Regions from separate parts of the Homo sapiens genome. Here region 1 is linked to region 2. The links come from fine-mapping of genetic effects on gene expression. A gene starts in region 2. The other region holds a variant in brackets. All regions are shown on one strand. Distances are from middle to middle. Region 1 overlaps MXRA7 (matrix remodeling associated 7). Region 2 holds the start of JMJD6 (jumonji domain containing 6, arginine demethylase and lysine hydroxylase).

Region 1 (2,896 bases), 40 kb after region 2:
CACCCCAGCCAGCTTTCCTCTTGCACCCTTTGTCTGCTGGCCGCAGCGTCGCAGTGGGAGTCCTGGGCCCACTTCTCCAAATGGCACACAGAAGCCTCAACAGGCACCCACCTGGGAAAGGCCAAGGCCGAGGGCTTGGGGTGCACAGTCAAGAACACGCCTCAGCTCAGCATTTGTGAGCCGAGTCACTTTGGCCCATCGTTTGTACACAGCCCCCACCTGCTGGTTGACCATGACCACAGGGCAGGCGCTGCCACAGGGCGTGGGCAGGCTGGACCTTCGAGGGCCTCCTCTGTCTCCCCTACCTTCTGCCCCCCCACCACTTCCCATCACCCAGTCTGTGCCAAGGGCACTGACCCTGTCCTTGTCTTGCAGGAAGAGGAGCAGGACTTGGATGGTGAGAAGGGGCCATCATCGGAAGGGCCTGAGGAGGAGGACGGTGAGTGGGACCTCTGCGCTCATGAGGGGGCCTGACAGTGTCGGGGGTGGTCTGTGTCCTGCTGGGGATCACAGGAGCTGGGGTTCGAGTGCCGAGGGGAGGGATGGGGTGGGACAGTGGCCTGAGTGGGGCATGAGAGGTAGAGTCTGGCGCCATGGATGTCCTGCCCTGGCCTGCCTGTAGCCCTCCCTCACCCCCATTGCACTTTGGGGCTTGGCTTTCCCATCCCGGGGCCCCTCTTGGGAACACACTACACGCCCTGCCTGGCTCTGTCCTGCGCTGCCTCCTAACTCCCCTTTTGTGACCGCGCTGTACATTTCACGATTCTCTCCAAACATCTCTGACCTATTTTACTGAGACGAAAACCACTCACACGGCCTCCCCCGTGCCTTCTTCAGAACGAAGGCCCCAGGAGGGCACACGCCTGCTTTCTAAGCAGCTCTGGCTGACTGGCCACAGGCCCCAGCCATGAGACTGAGAGGAGAAAGGGAGTGACCGAGAACAGGGGAGACACTGCCAGATCGGACCCGGCCAGGACAGACAGAGGCGGAACCAAACATGGAGTGGCTTCTGCTGGGTCCATCCACTTATTTCTCTAAAAAAGAAAGCGGAGGCAGACATGCAAGATGTCAGCGTTTGTTGGCTCTGTGTGGCAAGCACAGGGAGGATTAGTGCTTTCTGCATTTTTGTATGTTTGAAATATTTCATAATTTTAAAAAAGCAAGTCTGCTTTTGTGATGTTAAGTCGGCTGCTGGCAGGAGCAGTGGAAAGAGAAGGTTTCAGGAATGTAGGAACCAGCTCCTGCGGGCAGGCTGGGCTGGGGTGCAGAGCTTCCCCTGAGGCAGTGCCTTGGTTTCCATCAGCACAGCCTGAAGCAGGAGGGGAGAATGAAGCTTGGGTGCAGGCGGTGGGCTGCAGGTGGGGACATTAGTCCCTTACCAGGAAGGACCCTTGCTCCCTGCTTTTGGGGACTGGGGACTCACCGCAGCCATGGCCCTGGCATCTGTCCCTGCCATGTGGCCTGAGACAGCTGAAGGGATGCAGGGATCCTGTTAGTGACTTGGGGACACGGGAGGGAGGCCCTTTGGCA[A/G]GGACAAGGAGAGAGGCTCGCAGACCCCTCTCCCTGGCATAGCTGCCAGAGGGCACAGTCCCCCAGCACTGTCACCAGCCTCCCCCCTTATCTGCACCGCTGCTCCTGAACATCCCCCACCCCCAGCGCCTCCTGCCATCTTAGCCTCCTGCCATCTCTAGCAAGGCAGGGAAAGGAAAGGTTTATGGCTCCAGCTGTTGGAAGAATGTGTGAGCACCTCCAGCCCCTCTGCAGTACGAGGCAGCCTCAGAGGTTAATTATTAGTGTCGCTAAAATGACTTCCCTGAGCGACTAGGTGAATTCACAGGAGACTGGAGGAAGAAACCTCCCCCGTCCCTCGGAGGCTGTCACGTTGAATTCTGGTCTAGCAAAACTGGATGCGCTGCCTGGTGCACTGCATGTGACTGAGCGAAATCCTTTTCAAGTCGTTTGTTCTGTCTGGCTCAGAAAACAAAACTAATCAGACTTGCCCCATAAATTGAAACCTAAGACTGGGACCAAGGCAGGATTTTGTATGTTTTCTTTTTTTGGGGGGTAGGGGGATACTGGAATCTTACTCTATTGCCCAGGCTGGAGTACAGTGGCGCGATCTCGGCTCACTGCAACCTCTGCCTCCCGGGTTCAAGCGATTCTCCTGCCTCAGCCTCCTGAGTAGCTGGGATTACAGGCGCCTGCCACCACGCCCGGCTAATTTTTTGTATTTTTAGTAGAGACGGGGTTTTGCCACATTGGCCAGGTTGGTCTCGAACTCCTGGCCTCAAGTGATCCACCTGCCTTGGCCTCCCAAGGTGCTGGGATTACAGGCATGAGCCACCACACCCAACCAGATGTTTGGGTTCTGAATTCGCATCTAGAACCTTCTTCCTTTCACCCTGAGAGCCCCCCCGCCTCCCCATCGGTCCACATCAGCCTATCCGGTAGCATGAAGGCTGCAAGCTAGAGGGGAGGGGCCTGGCTTTTCGGGCTGCTGGACAGGATATGGAGGGACAGAGAGGGCAGCACTTCCAGAATAGCAGCTGAGGATCTCTCTATGCCTCCCTCACTGGGTCCTTTAGTTAGTGGAGGTCGATAAGAGGCCAGCCAGCTCTGCCCGACACCTGCTGGATTCAGGAACCAAGAGGTTGCTCCCCCATGGGGCTTTTCCCTCTGGAAGCTCAGCTTTTCTCTCCTCACCGTGGCTCATGTGCCCGGAGCCTGTGTCCACTCCAGGCCACAGGTCCTGGCTTCCTCTGTGCCCACCACCTACCCATCCATGTGCCCTCTTCAGGCCTCGAGATCTGTCCGTTTTTTGCAGGCAGCAATGGGGGGTCTCCCCTCGGGGACTGGCAAATCGGGCTCTGCCTCTTCAGCGGTACACACGTCAAAC
Region 2 (2,820 bases):
TTTTCTTCTTGACAATGTCTTGCTCTGTTGCTCATGCCTGAGTGCAGTGGCCTGATCATAGCTCACAGCAGCCTCGACCTCTCGGGCTCAAGCAATCCTCCCACCTCACCCTCCGGAGTAGCTGGGGCTACAGGCACAAGCCACGATGCCTAATTTTTCTACTTTTTGTAGAGACGTAGTATCACTATATTGCCCAGGCTGGTCTGGAACTCCTGGTCCCAAGCGATCCTCCCGCCTCCGCCTCCCATTTAACTTCTCTAAAGCTGTTTCTTTAGCATGGGACATGCCTCACAGGCTGGTGTTAAAACCAAATGAAATACTGCAAAGTGAAAGTGCTTTGAAAAACCGAAGACAGGCAGGGCATGGTGGCTCACTCCTGCAATCCCAGCACTTAGGCAGGCGGGAGGATCACTTGAATCCGGGAGTTGGAGGTTGCAGTGAGCTGTGATCGCGCCACTGCGCTCCAGCCTGGGCGCCAGAGCGAGACAGTGTCTCAAAAAAAAGAAAAGAAAAAGAATTATTATTGAGAGTTTTGTTGTAGCTGTGAGCTTAGAGGAAGAAGCGAGGTCCAACCCAAGAAACACTTTGGGCACCAAATAAAACTGGAAACCCTGATCCCAAAACTCACACAAAAGTGAGAGATAAGGATGAATCAAGAAACCCTTGGACAAGATCAAAAGAAGCATTAGAGGTCAGTCAAGAATGTCACTTTCCTGGCAGGAAAGATTCGATGTGGAGAAAGCCGGCCCGGCGCAGTGGCTCATGCCTGTAATCCTAGCACTTTGGGAGGCCGAGGCAGGAGGATCACTTAAGCTTACAGTTCGAGACCAGCCTGACCAACATAGTGACCAGGGTCACTTCTTGGCAGGGTCTCCAAAATTCTTACTGAGAGACATTTAATGCACCGAAGGGCTTCATATCCGACGTTTTTGCTCCGGGGGTCAACCTAAAGCAGGAAGCTGCGCAGCTGAGCGTCCGCACCCCCGGTCCCTCAGGAACCCAGCCAAGTCAGCCGACATCCGCTCCTGACCTCAGGCGCCTCCTGGCGGGTGCTGCTGCACGCACCTGCGGGACGTGGACCTCCAGGACAGCCCCGTCGGCCCCCGGACCCGGCTCCTCCGAGAATCGAAAGCGCTGGGCCCGGACCCCCTGTCCTCGGAAATCGTGCTCGCCCAGTAGGGCGTCGTTGGGCCCCGGGCGGGCGGGGGACCGCGGAAGGCTCCGGGCTGCCAGACTGCGCGAGCGGGAAGCCGCGGGCCACGTGGCCGTAGCACCTGACGGCAAGAAGGGGAAAGCCCAGATCTGGTGATAACCCTGCCGCGCTGCGAGCGAAGAAAGCCCGGAGCAAGGCGAAAGAGACTCACACGCGCAGAACTGGCAACGGGCGGCTGGCGCGACCGGAAGTGATGGGCACAGCGGCAGCGCGGGAGGGGAGGGGCGGGGCGGGGCGGGGCGGTGACGCAGCCGACGTGACCTTCCCAACATGGCGGAGGCCCGCCGTATGTGAAGGAGTACCCCAGGGGAGCCAAAGCCAATGGAAAACCGCGAGAGGCGTCGGGGCGGGGAAGACGGCGGCCGCTTGCCCAACCCGAGGCTCGGGAGGTGGCTGGGGAGTGAATTTTCTGGAAGGCGACTTTAAAGGCGCCGGGACTGAGCGAAGGGCGTTTGGGTACTGCCGTCGCCGCCGCCCAGGCCGGGGAGGGGTGCGTTAGTGTCAGGAAGCGGGCTGCGCCGAGGTCGTAGCGGAACCAGCTGGCGACCCCGCAGAATGAACCACAAGAGCAAGAAGCGCATCCGCGAGGCCAAGCGGAGTGCGCGGCCGGAGCTCAAGGACTCGCTGGATTGGACCCGGCACAACTACTACGAGAGCTTCTCGCTGAGCCCGGCGGCCGTGGCGGTGAGCGGGTCGGGCGGGGGTGGCCAGGCCGGGCATCGGCACCTCCAGCCGCTACGCACCTTTCTCTGGGCCCGAGGCTGCCCTCGCCCCGAGCGCCCGGGACCTCGTAGAGGCTCACCCGCACCCCGCGGAGTTTGGGGTCCCCGAGGCGCGGATTCCGGGGCGGGTCTGCTTCCTCCCGTGCTGTGGCCGCCCGTCTGCTCTGGCGGACGACGGGAGTCCCACGCCTGTGGCGCTCTCAACTAGAAGGCCCGTCGTCCCTGACTCCTTTGGGCGGCGGGTCCCCTAGGGGACCTGGCTGTCAAGGCTCATGGGGGGTGGCTCTAGGAACGACGTGGCCTCACGCACGCGCCCTGCCCCCACCCCGGAGGAGCCAGACGAGAGTCAACTTCCTTCGGTTTGTCATTACCAGTTGGCCTTGGGGACACCCTTATCTGCCACTGGACTTTTTTTTTTTTTTTAACTGGACAGGTCTTTTTTAATTCCCTCAGGATAACGTGGAAAGGGCAGATGCTTTACAGCTGTCTGTGGAAGAATTTGTGGAGCGGTATGAAAGACCTTACAAGCCCGTGGTTTTGTTGAATGCGCAAGAGGGCTGGTCTGCGCAGGAGAAATGGACTCTGGAGCGCCTAAAAAGGAAATATCGGAACCAGAAGTTCAAGTGTGGTGAGGATAACGATGGCTACTCAGTGAAGATGAAGATGAAATACTACATCGAGTACATGGAGAGCACTCGAGATGATAGTCCCCTTTACATCTTTGACAGCAGCTATGGTGAACACCCTAAAAGAAGGAAACTTTTGGAAGACTACAAGGTGCCAAAGTTTTTCACTGATGACCTTTTCCAGTATGCTGGGGAGAAGCGCAGGCCCCCTTACAGGTAAAGTATTCTGCAGCTAAGTGGTTAAAATCCTTTTCTTTTT

Evidence for each region. PIP is the estimated chance that this variant, and not a neighbour inherited with it, causes the effect.
Region 1: its variant is fine-mapped to the expression of JMJD6 in whole blood (TOPMed, PIP above 0.99).

Annotation. Positions count from the first base shown.
Region 1 is chr17:76,685,656-76,688,551 of GRCh38, reverse strand. It overlaps MXRA7 (matrix remodeling associated 7), which reads left to right. Exons shown (of 4, transcript NM_198530.4): 2 at 376-439. Among named protein-coding and RNA genes, the nearest start is that of MXRA7, 24 kb to the left of the region's middle. RefSeq lists an enhancer at 1,161-1,956. The variant A/G (reference allele first, on the strand shown) is at 1,531.
Region 2 is chr17:76,725,424-76,728,243 of GRCh38, reverse strand. JMJD6 (jumonji domain containing 6, arginine demethylase and lysine hydroxylase) reads left to right here and starts at 1,638. Exons shown (of 6, transcript NM_015167.3): 1 at 1,638-1,897; 2 at 2,389-2,777. The coding sequence starts at 1,769. METTL23 (methyltransferase 23, arginine) reads right to left here and starts at 1,405. Exons shown (of 5, transcript NM_001080510.5): 1 at 1,066-1,405. RefSeq lists enhancers at 1-505, 1,136-1,765 and silencers at 1,025-1,474, 1,585-1,714.